Linked DNA regions of Homo sapiens. The protein of the gene in region 2 purifies or fractionates together with the protein of the main gene of each other region. This does not show direct contact. Each region holds a gene or a part of one and is shown on either strand. Other genes may lie near its edges.

Region 1 (3,500 bases), on a different chromosome or scaffold from region 2:
ATCTCAACTCCATCCTTCCATATCCTTTATCCTTACTATAAATCTTTTTTAGACATTAAGGCCTCAACGAATCAGAGCAGAGCCAGAGAAATCAAAGAGAAGCAGTGCTTTCATTGTTCCAAAGGCCAGAAACTTTTTTTTTTTTTTTTTTTTTTTTGGTGCTAAAGCCATTCTAAGACCACTGGTACCAATTCAGGAAAACCAAATATGCAGATGACACCTCCAAAATTGACTATTACATATTCAGCAATCAGATATATCAAATAATGAGGTAATTCAGCCTTTAAAAATTTTAAGGAGAGAAACTGAGAACAGTATTTTCTATCCTAATGAAACTTTACCACTCTCATTTGCCTGCAATATAGCAGTTAGTCAAGGTCAGATTTTGTAGTTTGGGTCACTGGTGTGAAATATAAGATTAAAACTGTATTGCTGTGAACAAATGTATATGGGTGCTTATTAAAAGTATTATAAATGTATATTGCCTATCTGAAATATTTCATAAGAAAAATATTGTGGATCAATTGATTATTTCATGGACTGATTGGACATAAAAAAGTCAGGACAAATAGAAAATTTGCAAGTCAAAATCATTTGCTCTTCCTAAAAAATTCTAGAAGACAACTTGCTGTGTAAGATAGTAATTATCTTAGCATTTGGTGAAAAATATAAATATTAAATTAACCATATCGAAATAACAAAAACTATTTTAAGTATGCTCTGGGTATTAGATTTTCTGTGTTGTTCCCTTGTGCAGGATGGTATTTGTGTCTATATATATTTAGTTATGTGACTAAAACCCTTCCTAATAACTCCTTGTCATAATCTGCTTCTAATCAAAGTTAGTCAATAGCATTTATTGGTCATATATACAGAAAAAAATTCAAATATTCAAAATTGTCATATAACTCTTACACATCTTATTCATTGTTTTCTTTTATACCACAGTATATATTTCCCTTAGATCCTTTTAAAGTTATCACATTATCTACCAATGCATACTATACTGCGTACTACTCATAATCTGAATATTATTTATTTCCAAGGTTCTTAAGTTTAGCTAAGATGAAATATTTAGTTTCTAAGATATAGTACAGTAAAATTGTACTGAGTTCTTTTAAACTATTTAACTGTACAGAAAAGAAATAACATCTAGGCACACTGATTAGTATTCAGATCCAGAATTAAATATGAATTTGTATTTAAAAATAAATTGATTTGAATATTTTAAGTGTATTCATGGTATATCAAATAAAACAAATACTAAGTTTCTATTATATAAACTGTACCTAGTGAAAATAGGAAAACTCTCTTGCCTTCAAAGATCTTAAATAGTTAGGGAAAAATAAAATTGACCCTTGAACAACACAGGTTTGAACTGCACTGCTCCACTTACATGCGGATTTTTTTTTTCAGCTAAACATGGATCAAAAATACAGTATTCGCAGGATGCAAAACCCATATATACTGAGGTGCTGACTTAAAGCGAGTTCTTCAAGGCCATCGGCAGGACTTAAGTATGGCATATTTGGGTATATGCAGGGGTCCGGGAACCCATCCCCCATGTATTGTGAGGGATGACTATAAAACAATTTGAAAAGGTAAAAGATATTTCATAACTGCAACAAAGTGATGTTACTAAAATGTTTGTAACTTCCAAATTGATTTTTCAACAATAACTGCAAGAGGCATGAAGGAAAAAGAATCTATTTCAGCTGGAGACATCATGGGCTGCTTAACGGAGGCAATGGAGCAGGAAGGCAAGAATAGGCATTGCATAACCCCATTAGAGAAGTCAAGATAATCCACAAACATATTGCCTCATTAAGGGAAAAGTAGGAGACATAAGCTACCTTTGGCTTCCTGTGTGCAACTGGGTTTGAACAGCCTGCAAAGCAGGGAGAAAAATATTGGACTCCATCTCCACAGACAGGATAATAATATGATCGCGAACAGTTACAATTGGCATTACAAGGGGCTATCAAGTTTCCCAATTCTCCAGTCCTGTAAATAAGAAATGAAAGAAGGGTAAATGATCTGTCATAACTTTTAACTAACAATTTCGAAGCACTGTTATATCTTACCATTAGGTCATTTATTCACTCACTCAACACATAATTACTAAACAAATAAAACGTCTTCCTTTGCACATAAAGTTTAACTTCTTGTCGGAGAGAGGCAATAAAAACAATAGTCATATAGTATAGTATCTGTCAGTAATTTAAAATAAAAGGCAGAATAAGTGAAGAAGACAAGAGTTTCCCATCTGGCACCAGGTAATTCTCTTGTGGGGTTGGTTCTATGGACTATAGAATGTTTAGCAGCTTCTCTGACTTCCACCAGATACCAGTAGCACTCTCCTTCATTACAGCAACCAAAATATCTCCATACAGTGCCAAATATGTCCAGGATGCAGACAATATTTTAAACTTGGAAGGATGAACAAAATCATGCTGTTGAACATAATCATCTCATCAATGGGAAAACTGAGGTCCAGGGAGATTAAGTTACTTTTCTTTCCTTACCAAATATAATTTTCCCAGTCCCCAGGCTCAGTGTCATTGCAAGCTGCCTCTTAGAGAAAACATCTTCCCTAATATAAAGGGTTACACTAATCAAAAATGCATCCCTTATACCTCATTTATTTATTCATTCAAACAACATATATTGAGCAACTGCTAGACCCTATGCTGGGTAACGGGAATACAAAGCCGAATAAGACAGTCTCTGCCCTCAAGGATTTCACAGTTTAGAAGTAGAGAGGGACTTAGATAATTATTCAGTAATATGCTAAGTGTGGTTACAGATATCAGCAAAGTGCCTTTTAGAAGCACCAAGGAAGGACACCTAACACAAGCCAAAGTTTAGAGAAAAGGGGCTGGAGGAGCTACTGCCTGAGATGCGATTTAAAAAATGAGTAAGAGGCTGGTGCGGTGGCTTACACCTGTAATCCCAGCACTTTGGGATGCCAAAGCGGGTGGATCACTTGAGGTCAGGAATTTGAGACCAGCCTGGCCAACATGATGAAACTCATCTCTACTAAAAATACAAAAATTAGCTGGGCATGGTGGCAGGCACCTGTAGTCCCAGTTCTCGGGAGGCTGAGGCAGGAGAATCTCTTGAACCCACGAGGCAGACGTTTCAATGAGCCAAGATTGCGCCACTGCACTCCAGCCTGGGCAACAGAGTGAGACTCCATACAAAAAAAATCGTAAAAAATATATAAAGAATGAGTACAAGTAAGCCAGTCAAATGGGGAAGGGGAAACGTACTTCAGAAAAAGCTGGTACAAAGGCATAGGGTAGAGAAACAGCATCCTCTGTGGAGAAATATGAATGATGTCTGAGGCACAGAGTGATGGGAAATGTAGCTGGACAGGAGTAAAGGACCAGTTTAATTGAGAGCCACATGGGCCTGACAAAAGGTAATCGTTAAGGTATTTTTAGAATGGAAAGTGACACTGTCAAAAGTTCGTTTTAAAGAAGTAATTCTAGGAGTTG
Region 2 (3,500 bases):
TGCCTCAGCCTCCAGAGTAGCTGGGACTACAGGCGCCCGCCACCACGCCCGGCTAATTTTTTGTATTTTTAGTAGAGAAGGGGCTTCACTGTGTTAGCCAGGATGGTCTCGATCTCCTGACCTCGTGATCCACCCTCCTTGGCCTCCCAAAGTGCTGGGATTACAGGCGTGAGCCACCGCACCCGGCCTATTTATTTATTTACATAGCCACTGTCACCCAGGCTGGAGTGCAGTGGTGCAATCTTGGCTCAGTGCAACCTCCGCCTCCCAGGTTCAAGCCATTCTCCTGCTTCAGCCTCCCAAGTAGCTGGAATTATGGGCACGGGCCACCATGCCTGGCTAATTTTTGTATTTTAGTAGACATGGTTTCGTCATGTTGGCCAGGCTGATCTTGAACTCTTGACCTCAAGTGATCCATCTGCCTCGGCCTCCCAAAGTGCTGGGATTACGGGCGTGAGCTACTGCGTTTGGCCTTTTAAATGCCATTTTTCCTTTTGCCTCAGACTCCAATATGAGGTGGCTCAGCACTGTTACTGATCCTTTTTTTTTTTTTTTCAAAGTATTACTATCTTTTTTTTTGAGACGGAGTCTCGCTCTGTCGCCCAGGCTGGAGTGCAGTGGTGCGATCTTGGCTCACTGCAAGCTCCGCCTCCCAGATTCACGCCATTCTCCTGCCTCAGCCTCCCGTGTAGCTGGGACTATAGGCGTCCGCCACCACGCCTGGCTAATTTTTGTATTTTTAGTAGAGATGGGGTTTCACCATGTTGGCCAGGCTGGTCTTGAACTCCTGACCTCAGGTAATCCGCCCGCCTCAGCCTCCCAAAGTGCTGAGATTACAGGCGTGAGCCACCGCACCCGGCTGTGAAGTGAAATTTCTATTCATTGTCCCTCTTACTCTTTTTTTTTTTTTTTTTGAAACGGAGTCTTGCTCTGTCGCCCAGGCTGGAGTGCGGTGGCACCATCTCGCCATCTCGGCTCACTGCAACCTCCGCCTCCCAGATTCAAGCGATTCTCCTGCCTCAGCCTCCCGAGTAGCTGGGACTAGAGGCACGCGCCACCATGCCCAGCTAATCTTTTGTATTTTTAGTAGAGATGGGGTTTCACTGTGTTAGCCAGGATGGTCTCAATCTCCTGACCTCGTGATCCACCCACCTCAGCCTCCTAAGTACCTGGGACTACAGGTGTGAGCCACCACGCCCGGACCCCTCTCTTACTCTTAATTTATGCCTGATTATTTTTCTTTATGCTAAATCCATAATCCGTAACGAGATTTCAGCTGTCCTTTTCTAAAGGACGGGTACCATATCCTTTTAATCTGCTTGATAAGGTACTCAGGCCTGTCCAAATAATGAAATGGTTTCGTTGTTATTAAGCCATGCCCAGTATTTGGGCAAAACCAACATCTAATAAATTACACTGTCACCTAATACCCACGGTTGATGGGAAGCCATGAGGAACAAGGGGAGGTGATAAAACCGGCAGGTGGATCAAGGAATAAAAGCCAAGAGAAATCTGAGACCAGAGGGCAAGAAACGTCTAGTCAGGATTCAAGGACAGAACTGAAGTTCCCACAGAAAAAGGATCAGGAGCTGAGCTGGCTATCAGAACCCCTAGTACATGGTGAACTGATCCTCTCTTTATTTAAAATTTTGGGCTGGGTGCGGTGGCTCACGCCTGTAATCCCAGCACTTTGGGAGGCTGAGGCGGGCGGATCATGAGGTCAAGAGATTGAGACCAGCCTGACCAACATGGTGAAACCCCGTCTCTACTAAAAATACAAAAAATTAGCTGGGCATGGTGGTGCGTGCCTGTAGTCCCAGTTACTCGGGAGGCTGAGGCAGGAGGACCACTTGAACCCGGGAGGCGGAGGTTGCAGTGAGCCGAGATCGCACCACTACACTCCAGCACAGGCATCAGAGCAAGACTCCATCTCAAAAAAAAAAAAAAAGAAAGAAAGAAAGATGTTTTTGTTCTCCATGGATTTTTGGCAAGAATTCTGATTTTTAAAAATACTGCATTAACATGTTATCGATCTGGATTGCTGAGTTTTCCGAGCTTCACTGCCTCCCCATAAGCCCCACCCTGAATGGCTGGGACAGGCATCAACAGGAGACCCGGTGGCCTGACAATGGAGTAGGAAGGGGCAGCCTCCCATTCCCCACATCCCTGGGAAGGACAGAGCCTGACCCAGAGCCTGGGTGGGCTGGAGGCTTCTGCTAATGAAGCAATGAGGGGATTACAGGCAGGGGGCACGCCCCAGACTCAGAAGGGCCCCCCTTGGTTTCATGCTCTGTGGTCGCTGTCTTGACATTTTGCACCGGGCTCTGCAGATTGTGCAGCTGGTCCTGGGGGACAGTTCTCAGGTGGGGTTTCTCCAAGAAGCAGACCCGAAGCAAGACAAGGGAGAGCACTTACCTTCTTACTCTGATAGTAATCGCAGAGCAGCGAGTAAGGCAAGGTGCACAGGGTGGAAAATAAAATCCCGTAGGTTATGCAGAGCGACAGGACCACGTAGAGGTTCCTGGAGAGGGTGGCAAGCCCGGTCCCCAGGCCGAAGGCGAGATAGGCGATGAAGTAGAGGGTGCGGACGCTGAGGAACTCCTCCAGCTTCTCCAGGATAGCTGCGGGCCACAGAGAGGGTGAGCAGTGCCACACGGCCAGAGCCTCCGGGGATTCAGCTTCCAGTGCCACCTCCCGGCGGCTGACCTGAAGCTAGCAGTGGTGGGACCCGGCTTGGCAGGTCACTTGCCCCAGACCAGAAAGTACTTCCTGGGGAACCCAGGGGAGCTGAGAGACCACCCCAGTAATTCTGGTGGGTGCCCAGGACAGGGCTGTCTGGATAGATGGCAGGACCAGGGTGTCCTGTTCACACTGGCCCGGGCCAGGTCCCCCAGGGCTTCTGCAGGTGGAGGGGTCTTGGGGCTGTGACACCAAAGGGGCTCAGGGACTGAGGGTCTCGAGTTAAACCTCTGTGTTCTTGTGTAATTGTGGGTACAACAGCAGCCCATCCCGTAGCCAGCCACCATCTTTACACCCCCAAGATGATGTGACAGCATGGATGTCAGCGACGGGGCTCCCTAGAATCAGATAAAATGGGGCCAGTTCCCCACGCCCCAAGGCCACATGGCTATGGGGGAACCCAACACCCGAGGTGCCACCCCATGGACTCACAAGTGAGATCTGACAAATTTCTTCTTGCCGCAGCCCCTCAGTGACCCTCTACTTTGGGGCTTGAACCCACAAAGATGGGGGCAACTAAAATAAAGCAGTTGGCAGATTATGGATCGAAGGCGAAGTCCAGCCTGCAGCCTAGTTTTGTAAATTTAAAAAAAAAATTAATTTAAAAAACCAAAAAAAGATGAATATTTTGTGACACGTGAAAATCACATGAAACTCGTATTTCAGCGAACACAGTGCGGTTTGATTGGCGCTTGGCACGCCCACTCGGTTTCCCGTGTCTGTGGCTTTCGGTGAGGGGCTGCAACAGAGACCGCTGGGCC

Evidence for each region. The genes of interacting proteins can lie anywhere in the genome.
Region 1: the proteins of SLC45A1 (region 2) and SLCO4C1 purify together in Homo sapiens (affinity purification with mass spectrometry; one large-scale study listed by BioGRID and IntAct). This does not show direct contact.

Annotation. Positions count from the first base shown.
Region 1 is NC_000005.10:102,247,785-102,251,284, forward strand, and holds part of SLCO4C1 (solute carrier organic anion transporter family member 4C1), read right to left. Parts: intron 2,005-3,500; coding exon 1,854-2,004; intron 1-1,853. UniProt on the Homo sapiens protein: Mediates the transport of organic anions such as steroids (estrone 3-sulfate, chenodeoxycholate, glycocholate) and thyroid hormones (3,3',5-triiodo-L-thyronine (T3), L-thyroxine (T4)), in the kidney.
Region 2 is NC_000001.11:8,338,614-8,342,113, reverse strand, and holds part of SLC45A1 (proton-associated sugar transporter A), read right to left. Parts: intron 2,622-3,500; coding exon 2,416-2,621; intron 1-2,415. UniProt on the Homo sapiens protein: Proton-associated glucose transporter in the brain.